Homo sapiens: one gene and its partners. The protein of the gene in region 2 interacts with the protein of the main gene of each other region in a pairwise test. Each region holds a gene or a part of one and is shown on either strand. Other genes may lie near its edges.

Evidence for each region.
Region 1: the proteins of TEX13A (region 2) and TTC23 interact in binary tests that used the Homo sapiens proteins (3 or more experiments, as listed by UniProt).
Region 3: the proteins of TEX13A (region 2) and ATP5PO interact in binary tests that used the Homo sapiens proteins (3 or more experiments, as listed by UniProt).
Region 4: the proteins of TEX13A (region 2) and TXN interact in binary tests that used the Homo sapiens proteins (3 or more experiments, as listed by UniProt).

The regions. Positions count from the first base shown.
Region 1 is NC_000015.10:99,135,818-99,141,632, forward strand, and holds the end of TTC23 (tetratricopeptide repeat protein 23), read right to left. Parts: exon of another isoform or gene 3,928-5,815; coding exon of another isoform or gene 3,879-3,927; exon of another isoform or gene 3,760-3,878; coding exon of another isoform or gene 3,583-3,759; coding exon 3,500-3,582; exon of another isoform or gene 3,450-3,499; coding exon of another isoform or gene 3,411-3,449; exon of another isoform or gene 2,311-3,410; coding exon 2,193-2,310; coding exon of another isoform or gene 2,144-2,192; 3' UTR 770-2,143; coding exon of another isoform or gene 620-769; 3' UTR 506-619; downstream 1-505. UniProt on the Homo sapiens protein: Participates positively in the ciliary Hedgehog (Hh) signaling.
Region 2 is NC_000023.11:105,218,429-105,225,214, reverse strand, and holds TEX13A (testis-expressed protein 13A), read left to right. Parts: upstream 1-4,520; 5' UTR 4,521-4,620; intron 4,621-4,785; 5' UTR 4,786-4,817; coding exon 4,818-5,252; intron 5,253-5,456; coding exon 5,457-6,251; 3' UTR 6,252-6,286; downstream 6,287-6,786. UniProt on the Homo sapiens protein: Binds to ssRNA containing the consensus sequence 5'-AGGUAA-3'. Plays a role in transcriptional repression. Required for rapid sperm motility and timely degradation of mRNA via its interaction with CNOT1.
Region 3 is NC_000021.9:33,902,928-33,905,835, forward strand, and holds the end of ATP5PO (ATP synthase peripheral stalk subunit OSCP, mitochondrial precursor), read right to left. Parts: intron 1,095-2,908; coding exon 1,008-1,094; intron 713-1,007; coding exon 599-712; 3' UTR 526-598; downstream 1-525. UniProt on the Homo sapiens protein: Subunit OSCP, of the mitochondrial membrane ATP synthase complex (F(1)F(0) ATP synthase or Complex V) that produces ATP from ADP in the presence of a proton gradient across the membrane which is generated by electron transport complexes of the respiratory chain.
Region 4 is NC_000009.12:110,253,507-110,260,897, forward strand, and holds the start of TXN (thioredoxin), read right to left. Parts: upstream 3,002-7,391; 5' UTR 2,930-3,001; coding exon 2,906-2,929; intron 1-2,905. UniProt on the Homo sapiens protein: Participates in various redox reactions through the reversible oxidation of its active center dithiol to a disulfide and catalyzes dithiol-disulfide exchange reactions.

The DNA of each region.
Region 1 (5,815 bases), on a different chromosome or scaffold from region 2:
TTGTAATCAAATATACACTGGACAATTTGTGGTAAAAATGTCATCATCACAGCCTGAATGACTAGTGGCAGTAGGACACCACCAACCATCCCATTTGGGATGGAGAGGTTTCTTGGGATGTGGTACTTTGAGTGCTAAAACCAGGACTGTCCTGGGCATACCAGGACAGTTGGTTACCTTATAAGTGCAAATTGGAGGGTTAACCCTAAGGCATGGCCATTTCTTAGGGGCTTGAAAAAACTGAGGTAGTTTGAGACAAAGGAATAGCTAGATATCTTTACCCGTTTGTAACCTTGTAGCCCTTTACCAAAAATAGAAAAACACAAGTAGCTATAGTCTTCCTCTCGTTGAAGTCAACAGAATTAACAGATGGGAGACATTGGAGGGAACATTCCTAAATTCATTGCTTCCTGGGGTGGGGTGGGGTGGGGGCGCTAAATTTTAAAAATGTGTTTTAGTTTTTGTGATTCCAAGCTACGCTTCAAGAAGTACAGAAAGGAAGAAGTAACATCAGAATTCACATTTATTTCAAAAACTCGGCATGGACTCTCAGTTCAGGCTGCTGTAACAGAAAGCCGTAGCCTGAAAGGCTTAAACAACAAACATTTATTTCTTACAGTTCTGGAAGCTGGGAAGTCTCAAGGTGCCAACAGTTTCATTTCCTGGTGAGGGCTCTCTTCCGGGCCTGCAGACGGCTGTCTTCTCACTGTGTCCTCACATGGTGGAGAGAGAGATCATCTCTCTGGTGTCTCTCCTTATAAAGCACTAATCCCATTCATCAGGGCTCCACCCTCATAACCTAATCACCTCTCCAAGACCCCACCCCCAATACCATCCCTTTGGGGATTAGGGCTTCAACGTGAATTGGGAGCATATGAACATTCACCCCTTAGCTGACTCCACCCATGTCAACTAGATAGGACACACGGTGAGTAGTGACATCTTACACGTTTTTAGCACACTGCTGATGTCCGACAGGCCTGGGTCTGGGACCAGTGTGTACCAGCAAGCATGGTCTGTGGGGTCAGCTGTCACGCTCCTGAGGAAGACAATGGTCCCTGCTTCTCTCCACCCTGTCGTGGCTCTACTGAGTTTATTTTCCCCATCAATACTGGAGGTGGTGCCCTGCACAAATGGCCCCAGGGTGGTTTTGATGTCCCACTGGGGGCTGGAGGGGAGGGCCCTGTGCTGCAATCTGCTGTCATAGCACCAGCCTGCAGCCTCATGGCCACAGTCTGTGGGACCAGGGGAGGGAGGGGAAGGGACATCACTGCCCACACCTGCACCCCTACCCCTGGGTGTTCCATCCACCTCGATCTGGCACTGGATCTCCTCGTTGACATCGTGGAGGAAGGCACTCAAAGCTTCCTGTTCGACTTTGCCATCCTCACACGACTATGGCCTCCTTCCAGGGGGCTGAAGACTGCTGTGTACACGATAGTGTGCCAACTCAGGAAGCAGCTCCAGGTGGCATCCAGGTTTGTCCTGCCTGCAGTGGAGGCCACAGGAGGGATGCGAAGCAGCAGGGAGTCTGCGGTCTTCCCCCCGCAGCCTCCGGCTAGCCTTTCTTTTCACTCCCTTACACCTGCCTCCTGGGCCCCAGGCCAAGTCAGGTGTGTCGGCCTCCTGCCCCTCCTACTGGGCTCTTTCTCAAACCCCTTTTCAGGCTCCGAAGAACTCTGAGGCAGGCTGCACTTTGAAAACACATGCTGACAGCAGCGTGTTCAGGTTTCCCTTTATTAGCGTTTTCTTCTCATGTTATTCTCAATCCCTATTAGCCTCCTATAAGAAAGGACTTCCTGAAGTTCACTGTCCAGATCTAACTCCACACCTATGCAAGGAGCTGTGTGTACAAGCAGATGCCGGGCTGACTCCTGCACAGGGCGCACTGAACTGTTGAAGAGAAGTTTTTCAGCCACAGTAGTGCTGATGGGTAAAAATTCTTGTTGGCAAGAAAAACCACTTAGGTGATAGAAAACTGCTTTATAGCATATATCACCCTGAAGGGCATCCACTGTCAAAATGTGGCCCACGGGAGGCTTATGGTCTCACTGTTGCATGTTGGGGCCAACAGTTGGCCTTGGAAATCTGTATCCTGACTGTTGAATTCCATTTTCTAGGCGGAGGTGATTTGTACAGCACCCTAAATGACAGTGCCCAGGAATGTCCTAGGCTTTTTCAGGGTGGGGGCCTCAGTCTGCTGTTGTGCCGGGCCGGGCCTTCCCCAGCAGGGTGTCCTGAGGGATGCTGGTGCAGAAGGCCACTTTGGCTTTTGATGCCTGCCTTGGCTTCGAAGCAACCTTGGGGGCCCTGCAGACAAGCAGAGGGTGGGGTGAGTGTGGTGCCCCTCAGCCCCCCACACCGTTCCCATCCAGCCTTTGCTGCCCAGCAGGTGCCCAGACCCATTTATGAGAAGACTTGGTAGGGGCTATAAATGAGAGGAGAATTGTAGCACAGAGCATAAAACATGAGATGTTTTCCTCCCATCTTTTATTTTTTTAATTTTTTTTTTTTCAGACAGAGTCTCACTCTGTCACCCAGGCTGGAGTGCAGTGGCCCCATCTCGGCTCCCTGCAACTTCCGCCTCCCAGGTTCAAGCAACTCTCATGCCTCAGTCTCCCGAGTAGCCAGGATTACAGGCACATGCCACCACGCCCAGCTAATTTTTGTATTTTTAGTAGAGACGAAGTTTTGCCATGTTGGCCAGTCTGGTCTCAAACTCCTGGCCTCAAGTGATCCACCGCCTCGGCCTCCCAAGGTGCTGGGATTATAGGCATGAGTCACCTCGCCTGGCCCCTCCCATCTTTTAAAATCACCTGTGACCATCCTCACTGAGCTGAGGCCCTCAACCCTTAGCTGGCTTGGTGAGCAGGACATGGGTGAGGAGGATGGTCAGGGTTGCACTGGAGGCCTCCCTGGCTCGCCTTCCCTGCCCTCAAAGGGGATGGCGCCCTGCTGGCCAGGTTGTGTCTGCTCCGGGCTGTGGCCCTGTTTCCCTGAGCAGACTCAGGCAGCCCTGGGGCTGCTCTCTGCGGACCAGGCTCTGTGAGGTAGGCCCTCCACGGCAGAGCGCTGGGCCTCTGCTCGGGCTGAGAAAGGACGTAGGGGCCAGCCTTTAAGGTCAGTCAGTGAACCTTCCGGCTCCAGTCCTGACGGGCATCCGAGGGCAGAGGGAAGCCGGAAGCAGGGCTGCAGGAGGCCACAGGGATTCCCGGGGCCCTCCCCCTGCAGCAGGTGCCTTAGCCTGCAGGGGCTGGTCTGCAGGAAGACAACATCCAGCATATATTTCTGACTTAAAGGATGAATTATTTTTAAATACCTGGGCAAGGAAGATCTTTTACAACTCGGGTTTCAAAGGAACTTGTCCTTTATGCAAGTTATGGGAAGTCAGCAAAACATTCCAGAGAAGGTTACACAGAACCTTCTAGAACCAGCTTTCTCTTGAGATTCTGAATGGAAAGGGAATGAGATAGAGAAAGTGTGAGGGACGCCAACTCACGTGGACAGCATGCCCATGGCCTGCTGGGTGGCCAGAGTCCTTTTGTCCTGCGGTCCATATAAGAGGGTCTGGATCTGGAGACACTGTAGAACACCAAGCAGCTATCATGAGGCTATGGAAGTGTCGCTGAGAGCAGGAAACTAAGGTCTCCCTTGAATGAGAGAAAGATGACCTCATTCTTAGGCCCTGCTGTGATGGAATTAGCATGCTCCTGGGATGTCTCCTAGTGACTGACCTTTGGTTTGGATGTTCTGAGGGATCTAGGCAAAAGTGAACAGTTTTAGCACTATTTCACAAAACTCTCTGTGACTATCTGTATGCAAAAAATAGATTTAAAAGTAGTATTTTTAAAAATAAAGGCAAGAACCTTGGTACTGACCAGAGGATGGGCTCCAGTTTCTATTTTTAAATGTGGCCCTTGTTATAGCCTGGAAAAGATTTAAAAAAATAGTTTTGTTTTTTTTGTAAACACATACTCTACTTTTATTAATATATAGGCTGTCTATACTCTTGACTACACAGCAATGTCTTAGTTATTAGGAACCAAATATTCAGCTTATGGACTACCCAGGGCTGGCTTTGGCTTGATTTCTCCCTTCTGCTTACTTTAAGTCTTGCCATTTGATTGCTTGTAGTAGGCTAGGGCAAATCAAGGAGAGGAGAAAGATTAAAGTTGTGCCCAAAATGGCCAAAATAATTTTGAGAAAGAATGAGGTGGAGAGGTGGAGGAACTTGCTTTACTGAATGCCAAAGACCCTTTTATTTTTTTAAATAAAGTAATTAAGACAGCATGTTTGTCACCCGGGGTAGACAAAAAGACCAGTGGAACAGGGCAGAGAGCCCAAGCCTTGACAGATGACAGAAATGGCCTTGCGGGATTGGTGAGGAAGAGGTGGGCTAGTCAATAAATGGGTACTGGGACCGCTGGTTTTCCAAATGGAAGAAAATGGATCACTACCCCAAATCAAACACAAATATTAAGCTCAAGAAAGATTTGAAGGACTAAGTGTGAAATGCAAAACTTGGAGCTTTTAGATGAAAATACTGGAAAATATATATATATATATTTTTTGATGGAGTCTCACTCTGTCGCCCAGACTGGAGTGCAAGTGGGGTGATTTTGGCTCACTGCAACCTCCACCTCCTGGGTTCATGTGATTTTCCTGCCTCAGCCTCCCGAGTAGCTGAGATTACAGGTGCCCGCCACCACACTCAGCTAATTTTTGCATTTTTAGTAGAGATGAGGTTTCACCATGTTGGCCAGGCTGGTCTCAAACTCCTGACTGCAGGTGATCCACCTGCCTTGGCCTCCCAAAGTGCGGGGATTATAGGAGTGAGCCACCATGCCTGACCGGAAAATACGATCTTGAGGTAGGGAAGTATTTCTTAGACAAGATCTAGACAAAGCAAAAGTGAAAGACTGATAAAATGTAACTATGTGAAAACCTAAAATATTTGTGCACCAAAATTCACCATAAGCAAAGTAGAAAGACAAGCCACGCTGAGGAAAGATTCTTGCAGTGCACAGAAATGAGAAAGGTTTAACATTCAGAATACATGAAGAATTCCTATAAGGTAATGAGAAATACCAAACCAAACCAAAACCTCTCAATAGAATAACACTCAAAAGATATAAACAGATTATTCAAAGAGTTGAAATCTGATGAAATAAACATGCTTAATCTCATTAACAACCAGAAATACAAACTAAAACCTCAATGAGGTAGGTACCATTTCACCCACCAGACTGCAAAAACTACCAAGTTTTGTTAAAGATACAAAGCAACAAGAATTCTTTTATATATTGATAGTGGGTATTCAAACTGGTATAGCCCCTTTGTAAAACAATTTAGCAATATTTAGTAATGAATATGTAAACTGTGATATGTATATATTATATATGTATGTGATATATAAATGTTTGATATATGTATGTGTATATATAACCACATAGATGAATCTCATGATTACAAAGTCAAGGGGAAAAAGAAAACGACAGATGAATGCATATAATATGTATTATAATTTAATATGAAGTTTTAAAACATGCAAAACAAAACCATAGTAAAATAAGAAGAGCATGGGAATGATATCAAATTTAAAAAAGTAGTTATCTGGGGATGGGGTAGGTATAGAGGGGACTTCAACTGGATGGGTCATGTTTTATTTCTTATACTGAATGGTGAGTTCAAAGGTCTTTGTTATGTTATCCATACTTTTCTGCATAACAAATGTTTCATAATATATTTTTTAAAAATCGGATGAATTGTGCTACATAAATAGCTTGAGTAAAAAAAAGTGTGAGGGTTTGGGGAC
Region 2 (6,786 bases):
AGTATACAGTACATATATATGTAGCAATCCATTTACATATAACTAAGAATTGTGGATCATTCTAGTGGTGAGCTCATGTCACCATTCCTAAGGGAAAGGCAGTTGCAATATGCCACCTAAGGGTACAGGCAGCTTGTTCAAAATCTGACTACCAATGATTGAGGATGTGGATAAAGGTAAGGTAATAACGAAGGTAAATTTGAAAGGTTCCCTGACACCACCATTGTCCACATCATAGTATGAGTGATTCCTGCTTTCTTGTTTGGATGAAGACAATTTTAAGAATGGTAATCTGAGACACATCATGCTACAAACAGAAAGGTCTTCATAAATCTTTGGAGAACCCTGATGTTTCTATTAAGAACAAGAACATAACTCTCCTCCAGAAATCCTTCCCCAACCAATTTCACTGACTCTAATAACTATTTCTCACTTCCTCACTCTTTCTCTGTAAATATCAGATTACACTGATATTTTTGCATCTGTCAATATGTTATTTCATAGTTACTATCATAGAATTCACAAAGGTTTGGCCTTATTTCCTGGGTCACAATGCAAAACACAGAGTTTTCTTTACATATGATTACCTTTCTTCATACAGTAAATATCAGATTATTTTCCCCGTCTTTGTGTTGAAAATTGTATAACTTAGTTGTCTCACCAAATAAGCTGTCATATCCTATGCTTCCATGATCTATTTTCTGACTCCTGGTGGTAGAATTCTCTACTGTGTCAGAGATCTTGAAAGACTAGTCAGTATTCAAAATTTCTACTTATTCCTCTAATTTCATTCTGTGATCTCCTATCATCTGGCACCTGCCTCACCATTCTATTGATTCTCGTCACTTGAATCACTAAGGATATCTTATTAGCTAAATCTAATGACCTTTTGTTCACCCTCATCCTATGTAACCTCTGTGCATTATATGAAACTAATAACACTCTTTTTACCTTCCAAATTTCTCCTTAGGTCTAAAATATCTCCCTTTTTTGATTGTCTACTTCTCTGACTACTCCTACTGCTTGTTCTCCCTTATCCTATCCCTAAAGGTATCTGCTACCCTTTCCAAGACCTCGGGATTCCTTCCTCTGTTTTTTTGTCCTGCTTATTCTCTCCTTCCAACCTTCATCTCCAGCAATTTTATTGAAGCACAAGGTCTTAGCCACAAACTGAGCACTGAAAACACCCAAATTTATAATACATATCTCTAGTTTTGTCCTCTCACCTAACTTCCAGCCCAGTACAGCCATTCAACTATAATTCAATATAACTATCACAAAGGCATTTGTCAATCCAAAACTGCATTTATTATCTCCTCTCTATAGTCTATTTTTCCTCATATCTATTACGATTTGAGGCATCACTTGTCACAAAACCTAGTTTCTCAAGTCAAATGCCTCAAAATCATTTTCCGCTCCAACACCCATATTTATTTCTCATATATTAATACAATTGGTTAACAAGTCATGCTAACTGTATGTCAAAAATCTCTTGTTATCTGACATCTCATCGAGGTCCTGCCACAGTTCAAGCCCTAATCATGTTTTGTCTGCACTGTTGAAGGAACCTCTTAACAGGTTTCTCTGTCTTCACTTTCTCCCTCCTCCAGGCTGCTAAAAGAAACAATTTACTTTTAATTTCTTAAAAGTGTTTATAAGCGGAAGTGGGAGAATGGCAGTATAAAGAGACAACTAATCACAAACTGAAGTTCATGTTTAAAGTATTATAGAGGGAATAAAAGAGATAAGGTAAAAGATGTTCTGAACTTAGTAGACAAGAACACAAAGGAGTAAGGGGGACAACTATAAAATCACCAATGGTAGCACACAGCTGTAGAAAGGAGGAGATCCATGAAGGCAGGCCACGGTGCTGTCCTCAGCCCTCTACTCTTCTTGCTCCATATTCTGTCCCTGAGTTATTTCAACCGCTGCTGTAAATACAGCTTTCACCTCTCAATACTACATCTTCAGCTCTGATGTCTCTCCTAAGTTCTAGACTCATATATCAAACTGCCTACTAAGTATCTCCACCAGGATGCCCAACAGGTATTTTTTTTTTTTTTTTGAGACTGAATCTCACTCTGTTGCCCAGGCTGGAGTGCAGTGGCATGATCTCGGCTCACTGCAACCTCTGCCTCCCAGGTACAAGCTATTCTTGTGCCTCAGCCTCCCAAGTAGCTGGGACTACAGGCGTGCGCCATTACGCCCAGCTAATTTTTGTATTTTTAGTAGACACAGGATTTTGCCATGTTTGCTAGGCTGGTCTCCATCTACTGACCTCAGGTGATCCACCCACCACAGCCTCCCAAAGTGCTAGGATTACAGGTGTGAGCCACCACACATGGCCCCAACAGGTATTTTAATGTTAATATGTCTAAAGGTGAACTCATCCCAAAAAATTCTTCTTCATTCTCCAACTAGTCAATAACAGGGCTATCTACTTAGTCCCCTATACCAGAAACCTGGGCATTATCCTCAGCATTCCCTCATCCTTGTCCCTGACATCCCTATGCATTCTATCTACCAAATGGCTCTCTACACTCTTCTCTCCATCCCTATTTCCACTGCTTTAGTTTACTTCTTGAATTGCTTTAGCATCTCCCTAATGGGTCTTCCTGACTCCAGTCTCTCCCCCTTTCCTCACCATTCTCTTTTCTACATTATCTTCTGGATGCTCTTTCTGTAGAAGTCACTCTAGAATAAGCCAAAACATGAACCCTTTCCACTGATGGCTGATAAATAAAATATACAAGCTGAGAAGGAAAGAAATCACAAAACAGCATCTAAAAACAGCATTTAAATGGTGGGACTTTATGCCTCTGGGGTTTAACTACCTTCTTAGGTAATATTTTAATGCTTGATTTATTGTCTTTTTCCTCTCTAATTATCTGACATAGGACCCTTAGAGAAGAAATATTGTCTTTTTAAATGTAGTTCATAGAATAGAACATAATGCCCATATAATAAAAAATGAATGCTCTGATTTTTCAGAAGGGAAAATAACTTAAAACGCCAAAATCAGTGTATCCCTGTATGGCTTAGTCCCTTAGGTACATAAATGATGGTGGATAACATTGTGGAGAGAGTTAAATTAGAATGGTATCCTGGGGTGAGATTCTAATGTCAGGACAAGGAGTGTGCCACAAGGATCCATCAAATGATTTTAAGCTTAAGAGAAACATGATCATAGGAAAGATTAGGAAGTGATTAGGGATTATGAAGAAATTAAAGACAGGAAGATTATTTGAGAAGAAACATGGACATTCCCTAAGTGGGCATGGATGTCTTAGAAGTTTCTGAGGTCACAGCAACAAGATTTTGTCTCTTAGTTGACTTGTTTTTAAGGGTCGGTATGAAGGGTAGGTAACTTAAAAATTTGATTTTGAGGTTTCTGTATTGGACAACATAGGAATTTAGGAGGGGAATCATCTCCTGCATATATTAAAATAAGCAAGAGGCCATTAGTTTGAAGCTGTTTCCATACTTTGAGTTCCTATCTAACAAACCGCAAACTAACTTAGCATGTAAACAGACTGAAACTTAACATAAGCTGTATAAAAGACAGCCTAATTTCAGCCAAACACAACTAGCCAGGCTCCAGCTAATTACAGGCAGTCAAGTGACAAGACCATGTCCAAATAAGGCAAATGCCTTGCTGTAGCCAATCAGGTGATTTTTCTCTTTTGTGTCCAAACTCAGCCTATAAAAATTCACTTCTCATGTTGCTGGGAATAGCTCTCTGAAACTCTTCTGGTTCTGAGTACTGACAAATTCATGACTCGTTTTTCTTTTTTTTTTTTTTTGGTTGTTGTTTATGTGTAAACAAACTGTTAACGTTGTCTAACGTTTTTCTTTTAACAGGGAAAAGGGGGAGTCATATCATGAACATTCTGATTGTATGTGTCTGTAGGACATGTATGAAATGTGAATCTAGATTGGGAGTTTGACATCTACAGGCCAAATCATGCCAACTGCCTGGTTTTATAAATGAACTTTTATTAGAACATGGCCATGGTCATTTCTTCAGGTATTATTTATGGCTGCTTTTGTGCTACAAGTAGTTGGGATAATCTTTTGCCCACAAAGCCTCAAATGCCTGCTATCTTGCCCGTTTCAGAAAAAGGTCACTAACCTGTATACTAGGATTTAGGAGTCTGGAAAATGAACTGCAGAATTTTCATGGGTTGGGGGCTTTTTCGTGTTCTAGAACATACCCATTATTCCCCCTTCAACCTCTAGGGGGGTCCCTACTAGCCGTTGGCATGGGACAAACCATTGTCAAGAGGGAGGGATACATGGGACTTTTTTGACTTGATTATAAGGGCTTAATTTTCTTGGTTCTAAGTCTTTTCTGACCACTCCTGTTTCTTCCGACCTTTAAGGGCTCCCAACCATGTGACAGGTTCCCTTAAATCCCAATGGAGTGGCAGGGGCCTTCCTCACTCACTCCCTTCCACTCCTGGTATCTCTGGAAATTGGAACAGTCCCAGAGTAAAAGCCGACGTTGGCCCTGAGTCTTCCTTTCCCTGGAACCTTAGGAGGGAGAGAGATCTTCCTCTCTCTTCGGGCGTGTTAAGACAGCGGGGTTGGCCTGTACTTCCTCTGGCCCTGGCTGAAGAGGTGAGGCCTGGTGGGAGGTGTCCTAGGGTAGGACAAGCCGGTCAGGGGGTCATTAGGACGGTCTTGTCAGAGCGGGTAGGGCGGGGACAAGAGGGCGGGAGAAGATGGATGAGGGGAGGGGCTAAGGGGGAGGAAAGGAACCTATTGGCTGCTCCATCCACACAGGGCTAGTGAAACCGTTAAACCCCTAGGCGATCATGGCCTTGAGACCTGAGGACCCCAGTAGCGGGTTCCGGCATAGCAACGTGGTGGCCTTCATCAACGAGAAAATGGCCAGGCACACGAAAGGCCCCGAGTTCTATCTTGAGAATATATCCTTATCCTGGGAGAAGGTGGAAGACAAGCTGAGGGCCATACTGGAGGACAGCGAGGTGCCCAGTGAGGTCAAAGAGGCCTGCACCTGGGGCAGCCTGGCCTTGGGAGTGCGCTTTGCCCACAGGCAGGCACAGCTACAAAGGCACAGGGTGCGGTGGCTGCACGGCTTCGCCAAACTGCACAAATCAGCCGCACAGGCCTTGGCATCAGACCTGAAGAAGCTCAGGGAGCAGCAGGAGACGGAACGCAAGGAGGCGGCCTCCCGGCTAAGAATGGCCCAGACCAGCCTCGTGGAGGTGCAGAAAGAGAGAGACAAGGTGAGTTGGAAGCCGCTCCATGCAGTAAGATCCCTCAACTGGTCCCTGCCCAGTACCACTGCCCTGCCCCATTCCCACCCCTCTCCACCCTGCTCCATGGCTTCGCCCTGCCCCGCCCTTCCCACCTGGTAGCTCCGTCCTACCCTGCTTAGTGCTCCCGCCTTGCCCCCAGAACACACCTCAGCCCTGCCCACTTCTCTCCAGGAGCTGGTGTCTCCCCATGAGTGGGAGCAGGGGGCAGGGTGGCCAGGCCTGGCCACTGCCGGAGGGGTTTGCACAGAAGGAGCAGCTGAGGAGGAAGAAGAGGCGGCGGTGGCTGCTGCTGGTGCTGCTGGAGGAAAAGGAGCAGAAGAAGAGCAGAGGGATGTGGAGGTTGTGGCTGCCCCTGTGGAGGCCATGGCTCCCCCTGTGGAGGCTGGGGCTGCCCCCATGGAGACCCAGTTCCCCCACGTGGAGGCCAGGGCTGCCTCCATGGAGACCACAGAGAAGCTGGAGAGAATCCTCCTGCAGCTCCTTGGAGATGCTGATCAGGAAAAGTACACCTATTGGGGGCAGAAGGAGGGAGATCTCCGGTCGGTCGAAACAGCCACATCTTATTTCTCTGGAACCACGAACCCCTGGTCCAGAGCCTCATCAGAACCTCTTCCTGTCCAGCTCCCTGCCTCATACTCATACTCATACTCAAGCCCTTTTTCCTCCTTCTCAGACATACCCACTATATCCCCTCCACAAGCAACAGTCACAGCACCAGTTCCGCCTCAGCTGCCTTCCGACTGGGAGGCCTTTGATACTAGCCTGTGGTCTGATGGGGGGCCCCACAGAATAGACCATCAGGAGCACCCAAGAGACAGGAGATACTCCGAACCTCATCAGCAAAGACCTCCAGTATATCGCAGGCCAGGGGACTGGGACTGCCCTTGGTGTAACGCTGTGAATTTTTCACGGAGGGATACTTGCTTCGACTGTGGGAAGGGAATCTGGCTGCAAAAACCTCATTGAGTGCAGAAATGCAAAATAGAACCGAAGCATGTATATCTCGATGGCGAATTAATTTTCAGAGGGCAGGCTTGTGGTGGCGGGGGCCGGGGTGGTAGGGGAAGAAGGCTGGGAAGAGTGGGGGAAGGAGGTGAGACAATGGTACCTTTACGAATAACTTCAGAGATAGGGGTGGTGACTGGAGGAGGGGGAGGAAAGTAGGGGTTGTGAAAGAGGTGTAGAAGTGGGGTGGTGGCCAGGGGAGGTATAGATTGGGGTGGGGAGAGAGAGACACATGGAGACAGACATGTTTTGGTGACCCCCTTTGTATTCCAGAGCACTTGCACTCAATACCCCAGAAGTGCTGCAGCTTTTATTTGTGTATGTCTCGCTCGCTCTCTCCCTGCCCTAGTGTCTGGTAAAAGAGGCAACCATGTGTATAACACCCCACCCTCTACTCGCATCTAGGCCTTAGATGATTGGAGCAGGAGTGGATATTTGGCCCATCCAGAGCCAAATGGATTTTTCATGCTAGACACTCTGAACAGAGAGGCCGATT
Region 3 (2,908 bases), on a different chromosome or scaffold from region 2:
AGTTATACAGTGGTAAAAACATGGGCTGTAGGGCCTGACACCAGCTGTCCAGACAGGTGACTCTGAGCACATCTCTAGGGCCCCTCAATCTCTTTCCTCATTTGTAAAGTGGGGTGATGTCTCTCCCACCCGTGTGACAAGGCTGTCATGCAGCTTCAGATGTACATGAAATGGCCTTGAAAGCTACAGAGCAGCCTACAACTAGGTGTGTTCATGTTAGGATCAAGGGCAAGAGGCCTCCCTGGAGGGCTATGGATCAAACACAGATCCGATGATCTAGTAGGGACCAGGAACTCTGAACAAACCCTTAAAGACACGGGATTTTGGCAGGCAGGACCAGATAGACTTTGCTGAGTGACCATGTGTTAGGTGCTGTGTCTAACCAATTAATTCCTAAACATAATCTACTCAAACCAAATTCTCTAGGCCAAAAGGGCTTTTTGGCCTTTATACTCAGGGGATACCAAAAAAGGACATAAAAATAAAGCCTTCTACATTCCAGTTTAAAAGACAGTGAACATAATATGATCTGTTCTGGAAGCTTTTTATTGTTGCTCCAAGTTTAAGAATTTTCACTGATGGCAGAAAACCAACACTTTTAGACAATCTCCCGCATAGCCCTGCCCAGCTTCTGAATCTTGGTCTTGACAGACATGTCAACATATTTCTCGCCAATGCGCACAATCATTCCACCCAAGATTGACGGATCAGTCTACAAAAGAAGTAAGACTGGAAATGTGAAAACGCGCTAATCAAATGGGACACACAAAAAAGTGTTTTGAAAGGCTAAATGTGTTGCACAAATGTAAGAGGTTATAATTACACCTAGAAAAAGGCAAAAGTAAAACTGCACAGTCAGATAATCATTTAAATTTAAAATAAATACAAAATTTTAACTACAGAAAAATTAGTATAGAGTTAGATCTAATATTTCACTAGTACTTTCTGTAGCCATTTTAAGCTTAAAATAACCCGAGAAAACGTACCATAAATAATTTAAAACCTACCTTAGCCTCCAATTTCAATACTTGGCCTTGACTTAGGAAGCTCTTGAGGACAGTTTTTAATTCAGAGAGTGTGGCTTCTTCTAAAGGCTGAAAGGCAAAACCATCCTTTCAATTTAGATAAAGCAAAACAGAAACTTCCAGAGTTAAAATACCCCAGGCCCACATCACCAAGACAGGCCTTGTGAGCTCCTCCCTTTGCTACCTGGGCCCATCATGGAGCTGCTCTGCAGCATTCACTCCTTGTTCACGCTGGAGGTTCAGGGAGCACAGGAAGGCCCTGCCTCACAGCATCACCCGGGCAGCTCCCACTCAGCCGTTCAAGGACGGCCTGTAAATGCCACTCCCTCCCTGCCTCTGCTCTGTGTGCTAGCAGTACAACTTGGAACTAACAAGGAAAGGCCTTCAAGTTTCTAATGCCTGAAGATGCAGCCCCATCAATGCAGGAGGACACAGGCCTCTCCTGGGTGCAGCCCTGGGGACACGACATGCATCTATCATGTCCTTGGCTGAAAAGTTGCCATTTTAACCTGGTTTTACATCTTCATGTTTGCCTAGCTCTGCTGGCTGTTCATCTCCCCGCATCCACAGCTACCTGGAGCTCTGGCAGGCCACTCCACTCTCTGAACCCCAGTGAGAGAACCTGGAGCAGTTGGCTTTTCCTGAAGTCAGCTCAGCTCCATAACCTACTTTAGAGCAAGCACCTCAAATGTCCAGACTGCACTCTCCTCTCGGCCCCAACTCTTACTCCTGGTTAGTTATGTTATAGTGTTAAGTGTTCTAATGGTGAAAATGAAGAAGGCTGTTAAACCAAAGGCCTTTTTTTTGAGACCGAGTCTCGCTCTGTCACCCAGGCTGGAGTAGAGTGGCGAGATCTCGGCTTACTGTAGCCTCCGCCTCCCAGGTTCAAGTGATTCTCCTGCCTCAGCTTCCCAAGTAGCTGGAATTACAGGCGCATGCCATCACACCCGGCTAATTTTTGTATTTTTAGTAGAGACGGGGTTTCACCATGCTGGTCAGACTGGTCTCGAACTCCTGGCCTTGAGTGATCCACCCGCTGCAGTCTCCCAAAATGCTGGGGTTACAAGTGTGAGCCACCACACCCTGCTAAAAAGGCCTTTTTTTAACTTGTCATAAATCCTACCTCCCTGGCCCCTCCTCTAAGAGCCTAAAAAAATTTGGCAGAAAAATTTATGTCTTTGTAAAGATATAACAATATCCTTTTTTTGGGGGTGGGGGGTGCTGGTGGTGGCCAGAATCTATTCGTGTTCAAAACATGATTTACTGAGACTAAAAGGTTACAGAATTCTGAAATATACATACCCTCCACTGAGACATGTACCAACTGCCAGGTACCTGTCTATGCCAGGCACATTTCATGCCTACTATCTCCCTTCATGTGGGCAACCCTGAAAGGCCACCGGTCATTATGCCCATTTTACATATGAGGGAACGGAGGCTCAGGGTGGGTAAGAAACTCACCTAAGGCCACATCAGCAGGTGAGGACCAGCCCCAATATTTGAAACCAGTCTGTGTATTTCTAAAGCCTGTGCTCTTAGTCACTCATCAAGACATAACGTTTTTCAAACAGTACAGACTCACGCACCCAACAGTATCAACATCAAAAGCATTAGTAACAGTTGGTTCTAAAATCTTTTGCAAAAACAAGCATCCTTTAAAAGAAAATCATGGCCTTGTGGCTGTGCACGGTGGCTCACACCTGTGGTCCCAGCACATTGGGAGGCCAAGGTGGGTGGATTGGCTGAAGTCAGGAGTTCGAGACCAGCCTGGCCAACATGGTGAAACTCCATCTCTACTAAAAATACACTAAATTAGCCGGGTGTGGTGGCAGGTGCTGTAGTCCAGCTACTTGGGAGGCTGAGGCAGGAGAATTGCTTGAACC
Region 4 (7,391 bases), on a different chromosome or scaffold from region 2:
GTCAAGAAATGCCAATGTCTGGTTGAATAGACATTTTTGTTTTTTTAACATGATTAACCCTTATTAAAAACTTGAGATTACTTTCAAGAGGGAAGGTATTTCAAACATACTCAAGGCTTTTCCAAAACAGTTCTGAATCAAATTTAAGCACAAGTACCTAAAATTCTGAAAAGAGGCACGCAACAATAACTTTTAGCCTAACTGAACATGAGTTACACCCCACGTATGTGCAGGCTTCATGTACAAATTCTCTTCTGATACTTCTAAACGGGTATCAGCTTGAAAATTATTCAAGATTGTATTACTAAGAAGAAATCACAATTTCTAGCTCCCAGAAACTAACAGGATTAATAAATGTCTCCATCACTGACACCAATAATCTGGGGGAAGCAGAACAGTGTAGTTGGGGTAAATAGGAGCAAGAGTCTAAGATCTCGTTGCCTCAACATACCTACTCTGAGGGTAATAAGTGTGAGTGGTTTCTGAAGTACTTAGCCAAGTGCCTTGTAGATGGGAGTTCAATAAATGGTAGGTGTCATTTTTTTTAAAAGTGTTTATTTCTTCCTCATCACATTTACAGTCAATTATTCCATTCCTCTCTGAAATAGATCCCAGTTGGCCCTAAAGCACCAACAGAGTACCTCAGAAACAGAATTGTTCTGAATGGCAAATGGTGCAAATTTAGCCCATTAGGATGAAAATGTAACATGTATTCAACATTTACAAATAACAGGCTGGGCGTGGTGGTTCACGCCTGTAATCCTAGCACTTTGGGAGCCTGAGGTTGGTGGATCACCTGAAGTCAGGAGTTCGAGACAAACCTGACCAACATGGTGAAACCCCATCTCTACTAAAAATACAAAATTACTGGGCATTTTGGCAGCGCATGCCTGTAATCCCAGCTGTGCAGGAGGCTGAGGCAAGAGAATCGCTTGAACTCAGGAGGTGGAGGTTGCAGTGGGCCGAGATCGCGCCACTGTACTCCAGCCAGGGCAACAAGGGCAAAACTCCATCTCGAAAAACAAACTAACAGACAAATAACAATCAAATTAGTGTAACTTTCGATCAATGACTTTGGATTGTTATTTTGAGGATTAATTGATTATCAGGGCCTTTGGGCCCCAGGCTGTAGTGCTTTTTTTAAAGTTCCTGTCACCCTTGTACACCTTTGTCACTGGTAGAGGAGGAAGGTGCTCTGACATGCTCTGACAACTGGGAGGACTAAACTGTGTGCTCCAGAAATCCTAATCAACTTTGTTTGTAGTGTCTGGATTTTGGGACAACTAACATAGACCACTCAAAGGTCTTCTGGCTCAGTGGAGGGGGTTCTTAGCAGTTGGGTTATACTGAGGTTGCCAGACCCTGGAGAACAGAATCCCAGCCCCACTCCCTTCCCCAGGAATGGATTAATAATTTGTCACACAATAGGTGCTTGGAAAAAAAGTATATGAAAGACAATTCACTACTAAGGATCTTTTCAACACATGAGGGCTGCTAAAATGAGAATCCCACTAAGAAAAAACTGATTGAGAGGAAGATAAAAGATGACAGTGGCAATCAACATATGAGGAAAAAACACTGAGAGTCAATAATAATCAAAGGAACAAAAGGATCGGGGACACATTGCAGACACACTTCTGTTTCCGAAGCCCACCCGGCACCAAACAGGTCAGGGCACCCGAGGCGGGCGAGGACCCGCCCTCCTCTGCTTCCCGCAGGTAGGGAGGGGTAATCGCAGGGTAGGCGCTGGCGAGGGGTCTTCTACCGTTCGAGCAGTATCAATTTCCTCCACTCACTTTTCTGACGCTGCATTTAACAAATATTTCTGGAGTGGCTACATTGGACTAGACACTGCGCGTTAGGCTCTGGGTTTCCCAGTCTACAAGGTTTTAGGCTTGCAATAACTTTCAAACATGGGAAGGCTGTTTCGCCTTGGGCATTTTTAAGAGGACAAAACAACGATCGGGATACCGATAGGTCGGCGAGCAGGCAGCAGGGCGCGGCTGCTCCCAGGAGGAACCCTGGCTCCAGCAAAACCCACCGACTGAGGGTGAATCATGGACGGGCAGGGCAGCCGAGGCCCCCGGGCCCAACCTTGGGGACTCAGTCATTCCAAAGCCACTGCTGCCGGAAACGCGCCCTGCGCCACAGGAGTCCCGTGGGCGCGGCCCGGACCTCACTTCCTCGCGGTCACCTGGGGCCCTCGGGCCTCCTGGACAGACCTGCACGTGCCAGGGGGTCTCCAGCCGCAATCCGCCCCCTTAGTGCGGATACAGCACGCGTCACCTTTGGGGTCGGGCATGGGTGGAGGCAGGCGGGGGTCTCCGGCCTAGACCCGCTCCCAAAGGGAGATCACTACCCCCGCTGCGGGTGGATCACTTCACATACGGAAAGGCAGCGGCGGCCACCGACCCGTGCCTTCTGCAAGGGCCCTCCCTATCCTTGCCTGGGGCCTGAATCTGGATACAGATGGGGGGCCAAGGGCGGACCCCTTCCATTCCCTCATCTTCCTCCAGTCGGGGCTGCCCGGACGGGAGGGTGCAGGAGGCGCAGCGTGGGGACTCCTCACGCTGTCTGCGCTCTCACATCCCCCGGACGCTCCCCGCGTGCGTGCAATCCCCCGAGGAACAGGGTGCGAGAAACGCTGGGCACCGCCACTCCGCCCTCCAGGGGACCCTCGTCCTTCTCCTCCCTTCCTCCAGGGCAGGCTCCACCGCCTCGGGCGCGCCCAGGCCGCTGCTTCCCGCAGTCCCAGGCCGAGACGCCGCGTCCCTTTCCCCTGGCGATGCGGAGGGGCGGCCTCCGCACCTCCCGCCACCGCCTTCCCCACCTCCCGCCACCGCCTTCCCCAGTTACAGAGGCCGCGCGCGGCGCCGGCACCCTGGCCTTCCCCGGTAGCGCGTACCTTGCTCTCGATCTGCTTCACCATCTTGGCTGCTGGAGTCTGACGAGCGGCTGTAAGGACCGATGGAAATGGATCCAAAGCACCAAACAGAGCTTCAAGACTCGCTGCTTGCTCTCTCCCTTTATAAACTGGCACGCCCGGCGTGCGTGTGGCGGGGGCGCGCGCGCCCGGCCGGACCTCCGCGCCCGTCGCTGCGCCCCGGCCACGCCCCGCCCCTGGAGCCTGCGAGCCGGGATCGGGGCGGGGCTGGCGCAAGCGTGGGGCGGAGCTCCAGGGCTTCGGCTCCTGTAACCCCAAGCCCAGCTCGCACTCCAGCTGGAAGTGGGGATCAGCACTGCGCGTGACGGTGGGAGGCGGGGAGACGGACAGTCACCCCCAGAGACACAAGGTCCCTCCCGGGTCACCTGGGGATGCGTCCGCCGGGCCTGAATCGAACACGCCCACGCTCGAGATGGGGACCGCCCAGGCAGGGCTGGATTCCTCGAAAAGGGCCGCCACGCCCCGGCCCCCCCAGCCACGTGAACCCCACAAAGTGCTGAGTAACGGTGACCGGGAAGTATCTCGGTGTGTACGTCCTTGCCTCCTCTCCGGAATTTACCGTGACCGTTCTCTTCTCTGTAACCTCCTTCTGTTCTTTCATTTTCACTGCTGAGCCCGCTGCTCCAGCTTGACACAGCGGTTTAGTGCGGTAGAAACGACCGGGGGACTGGTTGGGCTCTTGACCATCAGACAGCTGCGTGTGAGATGGAAGTGCCACTGGGTTGAGCTCTGCAACTTAGTTACGCAGTTGTGACCCTGGAAAGGTCCTGACCTCCTGAAGTCTCAGTGTTTCCTTCTGTAGAACGGGAATCATGATGGTCTCAATCTCACGGTGGTGGTATTTTGAGGGTTAATAGTGCTTGCAAAGGACGGTGCTTGGCACATAGTAAACACTCCATAGATAGTTCTTACTGTTCGGTGTCTTGCAGGGACTGATTGGGCCTGGCCACCTTATACAGCATTTACAATGGCACAGCACGCACACTTGTGTGAGATTCTTCTAACAGAGGCAGACTCCTGGAACAGAAGTCGGAGTTTGCATTGATCCAGGAATGCCTGTTGCAGGTTATGTCTGGCAGGGCTGGGGATTGTGGAAGGTGGGTATGTTAGCTGGCCTTGTGGAGCCAGGAGGGCCTGTCAGCGGCTGGAAGTGGAGGTTGAAAAGCTGCTCACAGGAACGAGAGCTAGAAGGCTGGGAGGGAGAGTCCCAGGTCTGTGTTTTCAGAGCTGAGCTGTTCCCGATGAAGCTGCAACTAGGTGTGATTGCCTAGGGGTGGTGATACTGCTGCCTGGCTGCCCCCTGAAATCCCTGGCTTCCTTCTTTCACTCTTTCAGACAGAGGAAGGGAGGAAACCAGAGGTTTTGAATCTATTGTGCAAAGTTTCTAGGGGGCTGAGGAGCACGGAGCATGAATATGGATATAGGCAAGGGACACATTCTAAAGACAGCCCATAGGGAGGGAAGACAGACTGCCCTGAATGCAGCAATGTTCCCAAAGAGAGGGAGGTTATTGGGGCAGAGAGGAAGGAGCTGTATGGAGCACCCAGAGCAGAATCTATAACCTGCTTTTCTGCTGCTGGGTTTTCAGTTCAGCTGCATCCCAGCTTCCTGACTTTTATCTGTTTGTTGGTGAATTTGCATGGGTGATAACAACAAATCATTGAGTTCCAGGAAGGGGCAATGCAGGCCATCCTCAGCTGACTTCTCTCCAAAGACCTTCCAAATGTCCAGTGACTCAGTGAAGGAGGTACTCCCTCTCTCCCACCTCCACAGCACCAATGCAGAGTAGATGTGGAGGATGGTACAGTTATAAGGAACTGGGAGGCCAGTCTGGACTCTGCAATTTGACTCCGTTGTCCTCATCCCTACTCTACCACTTCATGACTGGGTAACTCTAGGCAAGTCTAAATAGCCTTTTTGTGCCTCAGTTTCCTTATGTGAGAAGTGGGCGTAATAATAGCTTGTGCTATTATAAGGGTTGAGTGAACTAAAATATATGTAAAATGCTTAGAACCGTGCCTGGTGTGTAGTGAATGCTACATGAACTATGATTATAGGCTATTAAATGAATGATGAGATCCATCTGGAATGATGGCAGAGCTAGGGTGGAAGGAGAGATTATAAAACAGGTGTCAGTCTTAAATGAATTAAGTAATGAAGACAGTAGTAATGAACAGTGAGCTCCGTAACATAAGCCTCAAAGGAAAAGGCCTTTTTTTTCCCTGCAAGGAAGAAAGAAAAGTGGGCTGCACCTGGTCCCAAGGAGCAGGTTCCCTGCATTTGTGGCAAGGAGGTGACGTTCTTTGAGGAGAGTGAGGTACAGGGGAATTATTTGGGACTGCCCAGAGAGGAAGCGTTCATTTGTGCAGAGAAATGTAGAGGCTCTGTGTGTTAGTCAGAATTTTCAGTTGCAAGGAGAAATTCTAGCTCAAACTGACGTAAAGCAAAAAGAGAATTAGTAACTCAGATTAGCAAGAACCCCAGGGGCCTAATGATGTCAAAGGGCACCATCTCTCTTAGTTTCATTCTCAAGTAGGCACTCTATGTAAGAGTGGAGTAGGCAGCTCCAGACTTAGGTTCTTACTAGTTTAGTATCTCTACAGGAAGAGTGTTCCTCTTCCTTGTTCTTATAAATGTCTGAGAGGCTGACCTTCACTTTCATGGTGGGGAAAGGGATTAGCCTTGCTTGAAGCTTTGCACTAAGAGTAGGGAAAATCCAGGGGGTTACCAGAAAAGGGGAGATTGCTGCCGGACCAGCAAAAATGATATTTTTATGTCACCCAGAAGGGCGGAAACATGTAACAAGGGTGATGGGCCTGCTTCAGGCCTGGGTCAGCTGAGTCCAGCCTCCACATGGGACTGGAGAACTGGGTCAGCTGTCTTTGTTTGGGTCTCAACTCGAATTTGAAGAAAATGTAATTGTAGGATTTCTGAAACAAGTTTTTCTCACATCCCACGTGTCTCTGAGTGGTTCTTGACCACCTAATTCATCATAGCCAAAGGTGCTCGATGATACTGCACATTCCTGGACCACACCCAGACAGACATACAGAATCAGTCTTTTGAGGTAAGGCTTTGTAATCTGCATTTTTAAAAAGCATCTCAGGTGATTGGGTACACTAAGATTTGATGAGCTTTGCCATGGGACCTTCAGAGGGAGGCCAGCATTAGTTAAGCTTCAAGACTGTGTCTAGCAAGAGAGTTGAGATGGGAACTCAAAAGAGAATGTGGTAAGTGACATAAAATCAGGAGCTCGAAGTACTACAGTAAAAAAAGTGGTAGAAGGAAAAGGAACAAATTAACCTGGGTGGGACAGTCATTAAATGCCAAGCCTAGAGTTGGGCGTGTCTTATCATTCCTCTCAATATCCCTTAGAAGATAGACATTATTTTTCCTATTTTACAGAGAAAGAAATTGAGATTCAAAGAGGTCACCTAGTCATATCCAATGTTCACTAATTCTTATACTCTGTCCATGAAGGGTGGGAAGTATCAGCACAGTTCTCAAGCCCATCTGCATATATTAAGTACTCCTCATTTCACCAGTGAAAAATATCTGACATCCCTTATGCTAATGTGCCGTATATTACAACACATCAAATCTTAACTATTTAGATTGTAAAAACTAATTTACGCATAACTATATCACACTTTAATTGCCAAGTATTTTAATGTAAATTTCAGATAATATAATAACCCCTGTGAGTAACCTACCCTGCACATCACTGCTCCTTATAGCCCTTAATTTGGTCCAGTGGTCACCCTTGCTGCCCGCTTGAGCCCTTTCACCATGTAGCATGGAATCATCTGGATTCAGCAAGCACCACTGTATTCCCAGATGTTTCTTTTTGCTTTAACCGAAAGTTTTGCCCATCTCAGTGTATATCATTGCATGACATACAATGCTCCATGTATGTCACAGCCAGGCGGTAAGGCAAGTGCTTCCCTTTGCTGCATCCAGATTCTTTCTCCTTCCAAAATCCCAGATTTTTAGAAAGAAAAAAAAAATTTTTTTTTGAAAGAAAAAGGAACTTGACCTTTACAGCATGCCATAAAATTACTTAGAATTTACCAAGGAACTCCTGGAAGAAGACATTAGAGATAATCTTTGCAACCTTGAGGTAGGCAAATATTTCTTAGGCAGAACACAGAAATCACTAGCTATAAATGAAAAAGTTAATAAATTTGGCTTCTCACAACACACATACACAAATATGTGAGGTGATGCATATGTTAATTAGCTTGATTTAGCCATTCTACATTGTATACCTATATCAAAATATGTTGTACACCATCAATGTATACAAGTTTCACTTGTCAATTAAAAAATAATTTTTTAAAAATGGGGGAAGCTAGCAGTCTTGCATCCCCTGTGAAGGGATGTATGTTCTAGTGGGTGGATTTTACTTGATATTAAGTATTGTTATAAGTAGTTAGATAGGCATGAG